Linked DNA regions of Homo sapiens: region 2 is linked to region 1. Evidence: fine-mapped expression QTL. Tissue or cell type: whole blood. Region 1 holds a variant in brackets; the other region holds the start of a gene. All regions are shown on one strand. Distances are from middle to middle.

Evidence for each region. PIP is the estimated chance that this variant, and not a neighbour inherited with it, causes the effect.
Region 2: it holds the start of STARD3, and the variant in region 1 is fine-mapped to the expression of STARD3 in whole blood (TOPMed, PIP above 0.99).

Annotation. Positions count from the first base shown.
Region 1 is chr17:39,704,263-39,712,107 of GRCh38, reverse strand. It overlaps ERBB2 (erb-b2 receptor tyrosine kinase 2), which reads right to left. Exons shown (of 27, transcript NM_004448.4): 2 at 4,967-5,118; 3 at 3,574-3,787; 4 at 2,656-2,790; 5 at 2,227-2,295; 6 at 1,907-2,022; 7 at 1,627-1,768; 8 at 61-180. Among named protein-coding and RNA genes, the nearest start is that of ERBB2, 8.1 kb to the right of the region's middle. RefSeq lists an enhancer at 6,442-7,314. The variant G/A (reference allele first, on the strand shown) is at 4,653.
Region 2 is chr17:39,632,714-39,640,558 of GRCh38, reverse strand. STARD3 (StAR related lipid transfer domain containing 3) reads right to left here and starts at 3,415. Exons shown (of 15, transcript NM_006804.4): 1 at 3,328-3,415. PPP1R1B (protein phosphatase 1 regulatory inhibitor subunit 1B) reads right to left here. Exons shown (of 7, transcript NM_032192.4): 5 at 6,473-6,676; 6 at 4,833-4,952; 7 at 3,935-4,743. The coding sequence ends at 4,694. LOC124903998 (a long non-coding RNA gene) reads left to right here and starts at 3,269. Exons shown (of 2, transcript XR_007065749.1): 1 at 3,269-3,568; 2 at 5,533-5,921. RefSeq lists enhancers at 2,744-2,863, 4,647-5,270, 7,358-7,845 and a silencer at 3,404-3,473.

The sequences.
Region 1 (7,845 bases):
CAGGCTGCATGCGCAGAGGGACAGGAACTGCAGCTGGCCTCGGGGGCAGTGAGTGGGTACCTCGGGCACAGGGCTTGCTGCACTTCTCACACCGCTGTGTTCCATCCTCTGCTGTCACCTCTTGGTTGTGCAGGGGGCAGACGAGGGTGCAGGATCCCACGTCCGTAGAAAGGTAGTTGTCTAAGGAGATCAGGAACATGTAGCCACATACCCTGGCCCTTCGTGCACCACCATGAGCAGCATTACCGTGCCCAGGCACAAGAAGAATAATATCAACCAATACTTAAATGCCCTACCACGCATCAGCACCTGACATCCATTTACCCCTCACAACAACCAGACGGGATCAGCACTGTGAGATTCCCATTTTGCAAAAAGGGAGACCAAAGCAGAGAGTTCTGTAAATTATTCAAGGTCATTGTGCTAGTGAGTGGAGGAGCGAGGATTTGAACCCAAATGGTCTGGCTCTACATTTTGTCCTCTCCCTAACACAGTCAGCCAGGATCTGAAGGCCCACTCCTGTTCCTGTGAGAGGAGGAAAGAGGTTCCCCAGGTCTGAGCCCAGTCCATAAACGCCCATCAGTAAATAGGTGATCTGTTAAATAAAACTGAGCTAGGCCAGGCACGATGGCTCATGCCTGTAATCCCAGCACTTTGGGAGACCAAGGCGGGTGGATCACTTGAGGTCAGGAGTTCGAGACCAGCTTGGCCAACATAGTGAAACTCCGTCTCTACTAAAAATACAAAAATTACCCAGCCATGGTGGTGCATGCCTGTAGTTCCACCTACTCAAGAGTCTGAGGCACAAGAATTGCTTGAATGCGGAAGGCAGAGGTTGCAGTGAGCCAAAATTGCACCACTGCACTCCAGCCTGGGCAATGGAGCGAGACTCTGCCAAAAAAAAAAAAGTCCGGGTGCAGTGGCTCACGCCTGTAATCCCAGCACTTTCAGAGGCCGAGGCAGGTGGATCGCCTGAAGTCAGGAGTTCGAGACCAGTCTGGCCAACGTGGTGAAACCCTGTCTCTACTAAAAATACAAAATTTAGCGAGGCATGGTGGTGGGCGCCTGTAATCCCAGCTACTCAGGAGGCTGAGACACGAGAATAGCACGAACCTGGGAGGCGGAGGTTGCAGTGAGCCGAGATCGCGCCACTGCGATAGAGCTAACTAAATTCGGTCTCAAAAACAAAACGAAAGGTAAAACTGACCTCACCAGGCTATAGAATAAAAGCTAACATTTAGGAGCACTTAGTACATACCAGGCACCGTTCTAAGAGCTTTACAAATATTAACTCTTTCAAATGTTATAACCATCTTATGCAGTTGGGACTATTCTTGCCCCCATTTTACTGATGAGGAAACTGAGGCACAGCAAGAGGGTCACGTGCCTACTAATTGATAGAGCTGGGTTTCAAACCCAGGCAGTCTGGCTCCCAAGTCTGGGCTCTTAGCTGCCTCTCCTTACTGCCACCTGCTCCACAGCTGTTGAAAGAACAAGGCAGCTCGGCAGGAACTGTCATGACCAGCTCTCAAAGCAAGATGCAGACAGTGCTCCCCATATGCTCCCATTTACAGAAACAAACCTCCCCACCAAAATGAGAAAACTGTGTTTCTCCCTGGCACTCACAGGGACAGGCAGTCACACAGCTGGCGCCGAATGTATACCGGCCCTCGGGATTGGGCATGGACTCAAACGTGTCTGTGTTGTAGGTGACCAGGGCTGGGCAGTGCAGCTCACAGATGCCACTGTGGTTGAAGTGGAGGCAGGCCTGGGGGGACAGGTGGCTGGCTTTCACTGTGCTGTTTTGCCCTGGTGTGCCAGGGGCAATAGGGCAGTACCAGGCAGGGTGCCCACCCCTTGCATCCTGGGGGGTAGAGCACATTGGGCACAAAGCAGAGGCACATACCAGGCAGTCAGAGTGCTTGGGGCCCGTGCAGCCGGCAGCACACTGCTCATGGCAGCAGTCAGTGGGCAGTGGCCCCTTGCAGCGGGCACAGCCACCGGCACAGACAGTGCGCGTCACTGTTGGGCAAAGGGCAGGATGAGGGCTGAGTGGCGCCCTGGGCACCAGACCCTCATCAGCATCACCTTCTAGGGAGACTACCTGGCCCAGGGGAGACATCCCAAGCCTGTTATCCCACCCCTCCCATGTCACCTGTATGACACCTGCATTCCACCCGGCCCCAGCCCTCCCCTTCCCTGACTCCAGGCCTCCCTGAGACTCACGGCTCTGACAATCCTCAGAACTCTCTCCCCAGCAGCGGGAGCCCTTACACATCGGAGAACAGGGGTGGCCTGAGGACAGAACCAGAGACAGGCAGTGAGAGAGATGTCTAACAGCGAGAGGACGGGTTAGTAACAGAGAGAGGCACAAACAGCAGCAGAGGCCACGAGGCCAACTGCACAGCAAGGGAGGGACCCAGACAGGCTGAGAGGCCCCCAAACCAGAGGCACAACCTATAAGCAGAGGGAGACAAGACAGAGAACCCCAGAGATGAAGAGGCACAGGGAGATGGCAGGAGGGACAGAGAGGGAGGAAATGGGTGGTGTAGGCGGCTGGGGCAGTGGCGGGCAGGCACTGGGTTGTAAGTTGGGAGTTTGCGGCTGGGGTCAGGCTGTCTGAGAGAAGAGGCAGCAGGGAGGGGCATGGCTTACAGGCCCGAGAGCGGTTGGTGTCTATCAGTGTGAGAGCCAGCTGGTTGTTCTTGTGGAAGATGTCCTTCCACAAAATCGTGTCCTGGTAGCAGAGCTGGGGGTTCCGCTGGATCAAGACCCCTCCTTTCAAGATCTCTGTGGGGTGAGCAATGATCAGAGGACCCTTTCCCCTTCTGTCACCTTCTGCTTCCCTTGGGGCCCTCCTGCCTTCTAAAAGAGGAGCAGGCCTTTTAAACAACCCCCAGATTCCCCAGGGAGGAGAGAAAGCTATCTTTACCGTCTTTGAGTCCCACCACCACCACACCCGCAACAAGAACAAAGCGAGAGCCAGGGAGGAGTGAGTTGTCCATGCTAGGTCCAGATGCTCATGTGGACCGCAGCTCTCTCCTTCCTTCTCACCTCTACTCTGGGCATGCTGCTTGGTGGTTAAGAGACTGTGGAGTCTGAAACTCAGCCCCATCACTCACTAGCTGTGTAACTTTTGGCCCTTATATCTGCAAGCCTCAGTTTTCTCATATGTAGAATGAGAATAACACTGATTTTTTCCTGACAGGACTGCAGCGTGACTGAAATGGGCCATGCGGGCAAAGCACCTGGCACCCAGACTCTGGGGCAGAGTCGGCTCCAGGGCCAGCAAATAGTTACATAGGTTGTTCACTGTACACTTCACTCAGCCAAGTGGGGGCAAAAACCCAGCCTGCATTCTCACGATTGAATTATATGTGCTGACGCAAGCTACAACTTCCCAGGAAGAAGGGGAATCTTTTTCCAATCTTCTGAGGGCGTCTTCCCGGGCTCTGCCTGCGTCTGCCCAGAAGGGACACCATTTCTAATGCACACAAAGCCTCCCCCTGGTTAGCAGTGGCCCTGGTCAGCTCTGAATAACCAAGAGAAGGTTTCAATGACGGTGAAGGCCACCTGTGAGGCTTCGAAGCTGCAGCTCCCGCAGGCCTCCTGGGGAGGCCCCTGTGACAGGGGTGGTATTGTTCAGCGGGTCTCCATTGTCTAGCACGGCCAGGGCATAGTTGTCCTCAAAGAGCTGGGTGCCTCGCACAATCCGCAGCCTCTGCAGTGGGACCTGCCTCACTTGGTTGTGAGCGATGAGCACGTAGCCCTGCACCTCCTGGATATCCTGGGAGGGGGAAGCAGAGTGGGGCTGAAATAGGAACACTGCCACCCCCCAGGGCCTCCCTGGGGTTCCCCAGTACTTGGAGATCTTGGGCAAGGCCCCCAGCCACTGAGCAGTCCTGTTCCCGCTTAAATAAAACGATAAAATAGAGATAAAGATCACGCCCTACCTTGCCTCACCAGATTCTTATATGATCAAGAAAGATAATGGTGGGGGGGCATTTCATAAACTCCGAACAGGTGCCCTGCCCTCTCTGTATCTCAGTTTCTTCATCAGTGAAAGCAAAGGCCTGGATGGGATGGCGTCTGCAAATTTTTTTTTTTTGAGACGGAGTTTCACTCTTGTTGCCCAGGCTGGAGTACAATGGCACGATCTAGGCTCACCACAACCTCCGTCTCCCAGGTTCAAGTGATTCTCCTGCCTCAGCCTTCCCAAGTAGCTGGGATTATAGGCATGTGCCACCATGCCTGGCTAATTTTGTATTTTCAGTAGAGACGGGGTTTCTCCATGTTGGTCAGGCTGGTCTCGAACTCCCGACCTCAAGTGATCTGTCCGCCTCGGCCTCCCAAAGTGCTGGGATTACAGGCATGAGCCATCGCACCCGGCCGGCGTCTGCAATTTGACAAACCAAGCATGTGGCCCCATTCCAGGGTCTGTGGACACGATCCAGCAGGTTGGTTTCCACTCTCCCTCCTGTTCATAACCTTTTCACAGACATTTCTCTTCTGAGCTTCACAACTGCTCCCAATATACAGATAGGGAAACTGAGACCCAGTGAAGCTAAGGGGGTGTAGGCCACATTCATAGGGCTCGTCAGTGGCAGAAGTGGGCCTGTAATCCACCTTTCTCACCAGCCCTTTCTTCTGCT[G/A]TAAGTGGGAGAGGGATAGTGGCTGGAGCAGGTGGACAGGGGACATGATCATGCTGGCAAGAGAGCACAAGATTTAGCGGAAACACAGACGCATCCCATCCAGACATGACCTCGGCCAGCCACGTTATAGAGAGAGTCAACTGATTCTGCAGTAAAATGAATGGGGGTTAGATGTTAGAAAGGACTTCCTGGTTGAGAAACCACAACAAGAGAGGAAACAGAAGGGCAGGGCACCTTCTTCTGCCACCCACCTGTAAACAGAGGGCTCAGCCCAGCTGGAGGCAGGGCCTGGCTGGGTTGCCCACGGGCCTCACCTGCAGGAAGGACAGGCTGGCATTGGTGGGCAGGTAGGTGAGTTCCAGGTTTCCCTGCACCACCTGGCAGCCCTGGTAGAGGTGGCGGAGCATGTCCAGGTGGGTCTCGGGACTGGCAGGGAGCCGCAGCTTCATGTCTGTGCCGGTGCACACTGGCAGGAGAGAGCAGATGGGTCAGAGGACACTGGCGGGGGACCTTCTCAGACCTGGCCACCCCATCCAAACTCACTCCAAGTCATGCCACCTCAGACAGGGAGAAGCCTGACTGAAGGACCCCTCCGCCCATGTCCCTTGCACACTGCAGGTTTAACAGCAGGAGAAAGCTTGCGTGCTTGGGAAGTAGAGGGATTTCAGGGGAAAGGCTTCTTCTGACTAGGCCCACCCTGTGCATTCAGAGGCTGCCCCAGCGTGCCAGCCCTGGGGAGCTCGCCCGCCAGTACAGGGTGTTGGCTGGCAAAGAAAGGCTTCCTTTGTCCCAAAGGCACAACTCAGGGCAAAGGGGTAAAAATCCCCCAAGAGAGGCGATGACGAATCATGAATCTTCTGGATACCCCCTGCCCCTCTCCCAAGCAAACAAACTCGGTGCATTCTCCCTATGCCATTCCAGCACACCCACATGCCAACCTCTTGGCAAGGGATCCACACCCCCGTAATGCCACCCAGAGAGTGGGGAAGGAGGGTCAGCTGGAGTTGCAGCTGAGGCATGGGACAACCGGGGCTCTGGTCATTGCAGAGACCTCTGGGAGTCCCCCATGAAGAGAAAAGGAGCGTCAGATTCCAGTTGTGGGCATCTGGACCCAGGCTGCAGATCCCAGGCCAGGGTGAAGCATGCGCCAAAGGTTCCTGCGCTGGCACCCTCACCCTGGCCACCTCCTCAGGGCAAGACTCCAGAACCAGCTGGCAGAATGTGTGCCACGAAACTGCTGCCACAAAGGCACTACGTCAGCCCTGCATACCTGCCCAGCGCGAGCCATCAGCCATGGGGCATAGGGCTGAACTGCCACACCTGGCCCACTTGGACCCCAGCCTGGTATCCCTGAGACCAGAAATGCCCACTAAGGTCAGGAATACTAGAGGAGGTAAAGCACCCCTGGTGAGGGGCGCCGGGGTAGCAGCTCACACCAGGCCTGCCAGTGAGGGGAGATTAAAGTGCCCAGTTGAACTTGTTTTTCTGCTCTGGTGAGATGAATCACCTGGCGTGTCTTGCCCAGGAGATCGGAAGGGTGGGGGCAGAGGGCACCCTCAGGCCCACAGGTGCCTGAGCTGCCCAGAATTCCTGCCGGTCACTGCTCCGCCTCCCACAGGCTACATGCAGATTCAGGGACAGCACAAGGGCTGGCTTGGGGTCTGACACCAGAGGCACTGCTCTCCCAGCAAGTTGGAGCCTAAGGTCAAATCCTAGGGGGTAATACGAGGTACCCCCTGCCTTCAGATTGCTGGGAGAGGCTGGTAGGGCAAGCCCCCAGGTTCCCTGCCTGGGCCAGTGGCCAGTGGCCACAAACTGGTGGTCTCCTAGTGATACTCAGAATGGCCTCTATTCCCACCTCTCTAGGCAGATAAGGACAAAGAGGGAGGAACAGGAGGGAGGAACAGAAATAGAACTCAAGGGTCCATGTCCCTGAGGGAGGCCTCCCCACTCCATGCCTCACCCACTTGCACCCCCTCCTCTTCCCCACACTTCCTCCCCCAACAGACTCCCAAGAGAAACAGGAGCTGGGGGTGGCAGGCCAGGCCCAAAATAACGCCCTGCTGCCAGGACCTCCCCCGGCCTCAGCCCTTCAGCTGCTTTATAGACACAGCTGTCTGCAGGCCCAGACCCCAGGCCCTGGCCCAAGCCCAGGGTCTCCACAGGGCTGGGGCAGGGTCCGACTCCACCCCCTGTAGCCCTTTTCAAGGGATACCAGCTGTGGCCGCCAGGCAATAGGAAAACAACAACAATGGGGAGTGGGGGCCGCCACAGTAACTGAGCTGAGCACCTACTGTGTGCCTGGCAGGCACTCTCGGTGGATCTGCATAACATGCTCCAGAGACTGGGGCTGCAACCTCCATCTTGCAAAGAAGACAACTGAGGCTGGCAGGGGTTAGCTCTCGCCTCATAAAGCTTGTGAGCAACAGGCAGGACTGGAACTCAGGCTGGCCTGCCTTCAGATCCCACATTCCTTCCACTAGGCCTAACTGCACACACACAAATCCACCCCACACCCCACGCCAACATAAATACACACTAATTCTCCCAATGCCACCGATAAACACCACAGGCTCTACGGAGGGCAGGGTGGCTGGGCTGGGTTGGGCTGGAGGGTCAGAACGGGTGGTAGCCCCACCCCACTAGTGAGTTTGTTTACCTGATTTGTGGCCAATTTGAGTCTGATTAAGAATCTTAAAGTGTTTGCAGACAGGTGGTAAAATTGGTACCCTGAGAACGGTTCCCAGGGAACTGGAGGCTTGCTGGCTAACACCCCCACCAGCCTACATGAAGTCAAGAAGGTCTTCCTGACACCTCCCTCCCACTCTCCCATCTCCTTACCATTGTCCCCATATCTGCCCTGTCCCATTGGTTTTCTTTTTTTGAGATGGAGTCTCGCCCTGTCGCCAGGCTGGAGTGCAGTGGCGCAATCTCGGCTCACTGCAACCTCTGCCTCCCGGGTTCAAGCAATTCTCCTGCCTCAGCCTCCTCAGTAGCTGGGATTACGGGTGCCTGACACCACACCTGGCTAATTTTTGTATTTTTAGTTGAGGCGGGTTTCACCATGTTGGCCAGGCTGGTCCTGAACTGCTGACCTTGTGATCCGCCCGTCTCGGCCTCCCAAAGTGCTGGGATTACAGGTGTGAGCCACGGCACCTGGTCCCCGTTGATTTCCTGGGGGGTAGGTCCTAAT
Region 2 (7,845 bases), 72 kb after region 1:
TCTCAAGAAAAGGCCCCCATAGGGCAAGGGACAAGGGGTGGGGGGGTTGGGGGGATGGAAGGGAGCCGGTTTCAGCACAGGATCCTCCAGGCACCAACCCTGCCTGGACAAAGCCAGGATTAGCCTCTCCTCAGCCAGAAAAAGGGACACTTTTCTTTTGTCCCACTGATGTGGCACCTGCCCCCTTGGAGGCTGGGACCCCAAGGCAGTTTCTGGGAGACATGCAGACCTGGAGTCAGGAGACAGCTCTTTAAATCCCTGCTGAGTGATCTTGACCTTACCTCCCCTGAACCTCAGCTTCCTCATCTGTAAAGTGGAGCCAACAGGCTCTCGCATTCAGTGGAACAGGCACAAGCTGCCAGATGTGCCGGATTTTTTATCTCCCCCGCACCGCTCTCCCTTAACAAGTCTAGCTGTGTGAGAGCTCAACTTAATGCAACATGCGGGTTCCAAGGGCCTACAGTATGCTGGACACAGTGCAAGTCCTGGGGCCACAGGACCCTGTTCTGGTCCATCAGGGACTCTGGGTCTGGTGAGGAAGACTGGCAGATAAATAATACCATGCTGTGATCAGCGCTTTCAGGGAGGAATGAACAAAGGACCGTGGGCTCCCAGAGAAGGGATCATCTGACCCAGGCTGGAATGAGTGAAGTCAGAAAAGCCACAGGGAGGAGGGGCCATCTGACCCTGGCCTTGAAGAGTCAGCATCTATCAGCTGGAGGCAAGGAGGGTGGGCATTACAGGGAGGCAAAAGAGCTCCAAAGAAGGCCCAGCCCAAAGGCATGCACAATGGCCCTACCCAGGGGGCCTGGTCCCAAACACCAGGTACTAGGCCTCCGGAGCATAGTTGCCCCCAGGCATGGTCCCTGCTGGCTCCCAAGTCAAGGGATGCTTCCTCATGGCCAATACAGGAAAGGAATTGCCAGCGTCAGCAAAGGACGCTGCCTCTGTCTTCCTCAGCTCCGTCTCCCCTGTTCCCCCACCCAGCCACCATCTACTGGAGCTCTGTTCAGAGGACCCAGCTTTCTGATCTCTGAGCCCACTCCAGCCTCTGCCTCCCTCTGATAAAATCCTCCCATCGCTTTATAGGCCCCATTAACTGTCAGCTCCTCAGAAGCCGCCCCTGGTCTTTTTCTCCCTCTAGTTCCCAGATCTATACATTTCTCTAGATTTAATGCTTGCCATGTAACACACACACACTTCCAGACTGGTTTTCCTGAGCAGACCAGGTCTGAGCCTTTTTCACTCTTGAATCTTCACTCAATAAATCCAGACCCTGCCCCCAGTGTCCTCCACTCCAGCATTTTATTTATTGGCAAAGAGCCAGGCTCTATCCAATGACTAGTAAGCCACTTCAACCATCCTCAGGCAACTTATGAAATTAAAAATCATAACTGGTGAACTATGTTGTCCTTACATAATAGTAATAACTTTTTATTTATTTATTTTAGAAACAGGATCTCACTCTGTCCCTCACACTAGAGTGCAGTGGCACAACCATATCTCGTTGTAACTTCAAATTCCTGGGCTCAAAGGATCCTCCCACACGTACCACCATGCTCAGCTAGTTTTTTAAATTTTTGTAGCGATGGGGTCTCACTATGTTGCCCAAGCTAGTTGCAAACCCCTGGCCTCAAGCGATCATCCTGCCTTGCCTCCCAAAGTACTAGGATTAATGCATGAGCCACTGCACCCAGGCAACTCACTTTAATTTATTGAGCATTCTTGTGCCTAGCACTGGTTTAAGACCTAAACATACAATATTCCATTCAATCCTCACAACTCTATGAAGTAGAGACATTCCTACCTCCATTTTACAAGTGAGGAAATTGAGGCACTGACTTCATCAAGGTTACCAAACAGGTCAGAACCCAGGCAGTCTGATCCAGGAGTCTGTATTCTCAGCTACTATGCTATTATGGACAGGGTGCTACAGGACACAGAAGGGCAATTAACCTTGGGGGTTAGGCGGAGGCAGCGCTGCCTGCGCTGAAAAACATGTAGAAGGTAGCCCAGCAGACAAGAGAAGGAGGAGGTTTCCAAGCAGCGGGGGCTGGTGTGTGCAAAGTCATGAAGATACGAACAGCAAGGGTAGGCATGGCGCATGCTGCAGTGCCGTATTATTGGACCTTAGGGTGCACACAGGAGACTGCTAGGTCAGATCACAGAGAGCTGTGTAAATTGTGCTAGGGGTTCAGCACATAGGCAATAGAAAGCCAGAAAAAGGTTATCAGCAAGGAACTGGCACCGTAAGACTTGTGTTCTAAAAGGATCACAAGAGTTACAGTTTGGAGACTGGGTTGCAAGCTGCCAGGGCTGGACTGTTGGGAATTGACAATACATCAACAGCGTGGTAACAGAAGAGATGGAGCTGGCCCAGGTTTGAAGGATGTTCAGGAAGTTGGCAGTACTAGGTCACTTTTAAGATGTGGGACTTGAAAGAGAGGAGAAAGTGTAAGGAAATTACCAGACTTCCGGCTGGGTTGGGGTAGAGGAAGAATTAATCTGCAAGGAAAAGACCAGTTCAAGTTTGGACCCAGTGAGCTCCATGTGAAGCAGAGCTGTCCCAATGGCCGCTGGATGGGCAAGCGTGGAGCTCCAGGGAAGGGCTGCGCTGAAGATGTGGATCTGGGTATTTAGTTGGTGTAAAGCTGAAGCCGTGGGGGAAAATAAGACCACTGAGATTCAGTGTACAGAGCGAGGGGTTGGGCGACAGAGGAAAACGTGAAGCGGGACTTTGACCGACTGTCAGAGCGGTACGAAGAAAACCAGGAGACATTGACTAACCCAAAAATGCGGGGTGAGGGAACGTGTCATTAGAAATGAGTGTCAATGGTACTATGCACCTCTAAGAACTCAAGACTTCAAAGGGCCCTTTTAATACCAATTAGGAAGTTATTCACGGCCGTTTCGAAAGGAAGTTGGGGAGACACGGGATGACACTGAGACGCAGAGCTACCGGAATGCGTAGATGTTTTCCTCTCACCCCAGATTCCGACCCCTCCCCATACCTGCCCCTGCTCATAACACCCAGACACCTCACCCTCTCCTCTCCCCTCAGTTAAGACGGAGGCTTTGGAAGGAGATCCCGAACGTCCTCCCCGGGCTCCCCAGGATAGGCGGGGTCGCCAAGAGTCATTGCTGGAGACCCCAACCCGCGCGGGGCGGCGCGAGGCCAGACAGAGGAAGGGGGCGGAACCTGAGACGCAGCGGGTGTGGGAAGGGTCGGACGGAACCCAGCACGGACAGCGGGCGGCGAAGCGGGTTCGACCGGCGGAAGACGGCCCTCGCACGCCACCCGCTCCCAGCGACCGCTCCGGGACCCACCTGCTCCATGTCAGCCACGGCCCCGGCTCTTCCCGCCCCAACCGCAGTCCGGCTCCGCGGCCTCAGTAGCGCCTCAGAGCGGAAGAAGATCTTCCGGCAGCGCCACTTCCGCCGCTGAGTCCGCCCCCGAGAGCGAAGCGGGACTTGCGTTCGCCTGCGGCCCCGCCCCTTCGCCCCGCCTCCAGCCCCGGCCCTGCGCAGAAGCGGACTCAAAGGCCGGAGTCTAAGGGCCTACCTAAGGGTAGGGGAGTGGGAAGAAGACCAGGGCCGTCGTTATTAGGCCACACAGGCCTGGCACTGAGGGAAAAAGGGGAATTTCCCGAGGGGAGTCCTGTGGGGATGGGGAAATCTTTGGAGGAATCCAGTTATTCGAGAAGGACTTCCCCACCCCACCTGCCTCCTTCAGCCATCCCAAGCAGCAGCTAGAACTTCTGTAGTTCTTCCTCTGAGTGCCCCGAGCCTGCTGTCTGCCAGAAAGACTCCTAGACTAGAGGATTGGACAGTAGGGTCAAAACCCTAACCCTTGGTTGACCACCGGCCTTCCCTATCAGGACGCCCCATTACCTCCCTTTTCCTCCTGCTTCCCCTGAAAGAGGAGTCTCAGCAGTTATTTACAAAGATTTATTACAGCACGGGAGGGGTTCAGGCCTGGAGTCAGGGAAGAAGGGGAAAGGGGCAGAGCAGCTGGGGGACAAGGAAAACCTGGCGCCCCCCGCTGTGTGCCCCACCGGGGACATAAACTAGGCGGCATTCCTGGCATCAAAGCACAAAACGCAACAAAGAGGTCTCTGCCAGTCCATCTTCCAGGCACCCAGGAGGAGCAAGGGTGATTAAGGGAAGATTCCCAAAATGTTGAGGCTATGGAGAAAAACGCCTTAGTCCTGGACCCTGGTAGAAGCCGGTGAGAGAAGTGGTGACTTGGAATCCTCCATAGGAAAGTGGGTAGAAAAGGATCTAAGGGTACCTCAAGGTTCTCAGGACCTCCTTTCCCCAGATCTTAGGGTCCTGCCCTGTGGGTCTCCTGTGTCCAGGGGAGAGGATCTGGGGAGTAGAATTGTGAAGGGCAAATCCCTGTTCCCGGTTTTCTGGATTTTCCAATGTGGGCTGTCTCACATCCCACCTCCCGCTGGGTGAATGGAGGAATGACTGGCAGGGGTGGGCATCAGGCAGCAAGTGCCCAGGTTCTCTGGGTATCAGCCAAAGGTGGGCAAACAAGCAAACACAGACCAGCCTTAGTCTTCTAGAAGTCAGAAGCCGCAGCCCTAGCAGGCGAGGGGAAGAGCACAAAACAGGGTGAGGATAGAGTGGGTTTCTGGGGAACAGCGATGTCCCCTCCACTTCCTCCTGGGAGATGCAGGCTGGGTGCCTATGTGCCAGGCTCAGAGGGGGAAGGGCGCTGAGGTTCCTCCCCAGGCTCTGAAAGGCAAGCAGAGAGGGACTCAGGGCCTGGCCCCACCCACCAAGATCCCAGCCCCTCCTCCCCATTTCACACTCCCAAGCCTTACCACTTAGTGCTGGGTCTTCCACTTGGTCCTCAGAGCCTCCATCTCTCTCGGACTCATCCAGAGGGGGTGGGCGCTCCCAGGGCCCTTCCAGACCCTGGCCACAGGTTGTCTTTTGCCCAGCTGGGGATGGGAAAGAAGAGATAAGAACACAGGCTCTGCGTATCCATCCGGCTGTCCTGGAGTGTGAGCTAAGTGTCTGATGGCTGAGGTTAAGCTTTCCAGGGGCATCATGGAAGCATGGAGAGAGAACTGGGCTAGAACAGCTCTCCCAGCAACTAGCCATATGGCTTACGTAAGTCAGTTAGTACCTTTCTGAAGGAAATAGAAAGGGGGAAATTGTGTAGATTACCTTAAACAAGATGTAATAGTGAATACCCTGCCCAGCCCAGCGCCAGCACCCAGGAGCCACTAGGAGTCGTGGTGGTTTATATTGCTCCATCATAGGACTATCATTTGACCCGGTGCCCTTCTGCATTTTTTGTTTGTTTGTTTTTTTTTGTTGTTTTGTTTTGGTTTTTTGTTTTTGTTTTTGAGATGGAGTCTCACTCTGTTGCCCAGGCTGGAGTGCAGTGGTGCGATCTCAGCTCACTGCAACTTCCACCTCCCAGGTTCAGGGGATTCTTCTGCCTCAGCCTCCCAAGCAGCTGGGATTACAGGTGTGTGCCACTGTGCCTGGCTAATTTTTGTATTTTTATTACAGATGGGGTTTCACCATGTTGGCTGGACTGGTCTTGAACTCCAGACCTCAAGTGATCCGCTAGCCTTGGCATCCCAAAGTGCTGGAATTACAGGCATGAGCCACCGCACCCAGCCACCTGCTGCTTTTCCTGAGGGAACAGTCTCCTCTCACCCCTCTTCCACTGTTTTGGAGGGGTCTCAGTGAGGACTGATTCAGGTCTTCCAGCTGTCTCTTGCCCACAAAGGGACTGAAGCCCAGCAACAGCTTTTGCCCCCATGGCCAATCTCTTCACTGCCAGATATGCAGGCAGGAGGCCCAAGGCCTTTTGTTTGTGTGGAAGAGCTGACAGCTTCTAGTAGGGGTGGTTGACTCTTCAGTATTCCCATAAATAATGAGACTAAAAAGGTTAATGGGCCGGGCTGGTTCTTGAATTTTAAATTCTACATCTAAACACTAGAGGGCACCCTCCCACTCCATCCTAGGAAGGAAAAAGAGGAGAAACAGACAACAGTCCTGGAGAGGGCAAGTAAATGAGGCAGCCCTCTGCACCCCAGCAGAGACCACATCCTAGGTTCAAAAATGTAGGTGAAATGCAGGTGACAGGGGTGTTGGACTCTCCTGGTCCTCCATCCCTGAATGTCCTCACGCCCCCTTACTGCCATAGGTGGGAAGTCCTCTTTTGGCTCTAGCCTCAAACCCCAAACGGCCTTGGCCTTAATTCTCAGGGAAGAGAGGAATTATTAGGGAAAACCTGATTGGGAGAGGGACTGAGCCAAGGATGGAGGAAACCCATGTCTCAGGTAGGGCTGAGTTCGGGGCACCCCATGGAGCGAGAAGACAGGGAGGCCCCTGTGGTGTCACTACAGTTTGCGTGTATGAGACACTGAACTAGAAGGGGACGTCCTCGTATACTCAAGGAGGACCCACAGCTAATCCACATGTCACAGGCCCCTCAGCTTACCAGACTGCCTGATGACCTTCAGGACTTCAGCCTGGCTGTCCTCTTCTTCTTCCTCTTCTTCATCATCCTCCTCTTCCTCCTCATCTTCCTCTCTTGGATAACCCAGCTCCCGAAGCTCCCCCAGCTCATCCTCCTCCTCTGAGGCCTGGTTCTCATTCAAATTGCTGATAGACTGCAGGTGAGACTCAGCAATGCGCTGCACAGCTGGCACAGAGGAGACCGAGGAAAGCAAGGGTCAGCTAGACACAGCCCATGGATCTGGAGATAGCCTGTGGCCTAGCCCCCAGCCTCCTTCCCGTAGGCCTGGGGCAGAGAATACCCCCTCAGGGGCCCAAGTTCAAAGGCCAAAGTTGACAGGTCAGCCTGATGGGTGTCAGACCAGGGCAGAGGCAGCCAGGGGTAGATTTGATCATGTTTGGCTCTTAAGCTGTCCTAAGATGCTAGCCCCCAGGCAGCTCCCCCACACCATAGGGCACTAGGCTGGGCAAGACCAGGCGGGCACAGCAGCAGCTTAACATTCCCTGGCTGGAGAGCTTGATTTTCCAAGTACCCAGTACGGGAGACAGTGTCTCCCAGCTTCAAGCCCAGGCAGAAGGCACAGGGCGTAGGAACCAGGGCCTGGGGATTTGCCACTTTCCATTTCTTGGGGGTGCCCAGCCTGCTGAGGGCTCACTGCTTACCCTGATCCTACCTCCCATGCGATGCATAGTCCCCACTCCCTGGCACTGCCCAGTCATAGATGCCAATCCACATACTCCTGCCCCGGGCTCCAAGGGACAGAACAATTCCGAGGCTGAGGACATAATAGTCTGCAGCCAGTGCAGTCTGTGCCGGGGGATGCGGCATGCTCAGATGCGGCCCCCACAATCTTGACCCACATCCCCAGGTTCCCAGCTCCCTCTGCGGTGACCTAGAAAGCAACCCCCCCAGCCTCCAAAGACCTGCTCAGATAGGGCTGGGAAGGGAACAGTGTGGGCAGCTGGAGACAAGTTTCCAAAAGATGGAAAGGAGCAAGGGGTTAGAGAAAGGGGCCAAGGCCAGGGGTTCTGGGGGATGGCAGAGGTTGAGGGGCCACTGAGGAGAGGCTGCAGGAGCTGGCAGGATCTTAGAACATATGCGACACAAAGTTCACAGGCCACAGACAAGATGCTGAGGAGGGGCTGGGGGTGGGGAATGGGGAGTTGCTGCAGTTCCTTCTTGGTCTGCCAGTGGCCCCTCCCCTCAGAAGGCCCAGAGGGGTAGGGCCAGGCTGGAAACCTCCGGCACAGTGAGCAGGGTGCTATGCTCCTGCCAACTCGGGGACAGGCACAGAGGGTGCTTTGTATGTGCCCGCTGCCCCACCCAGCCCCCAGCTCCCAGCCCAGTACCTCCTG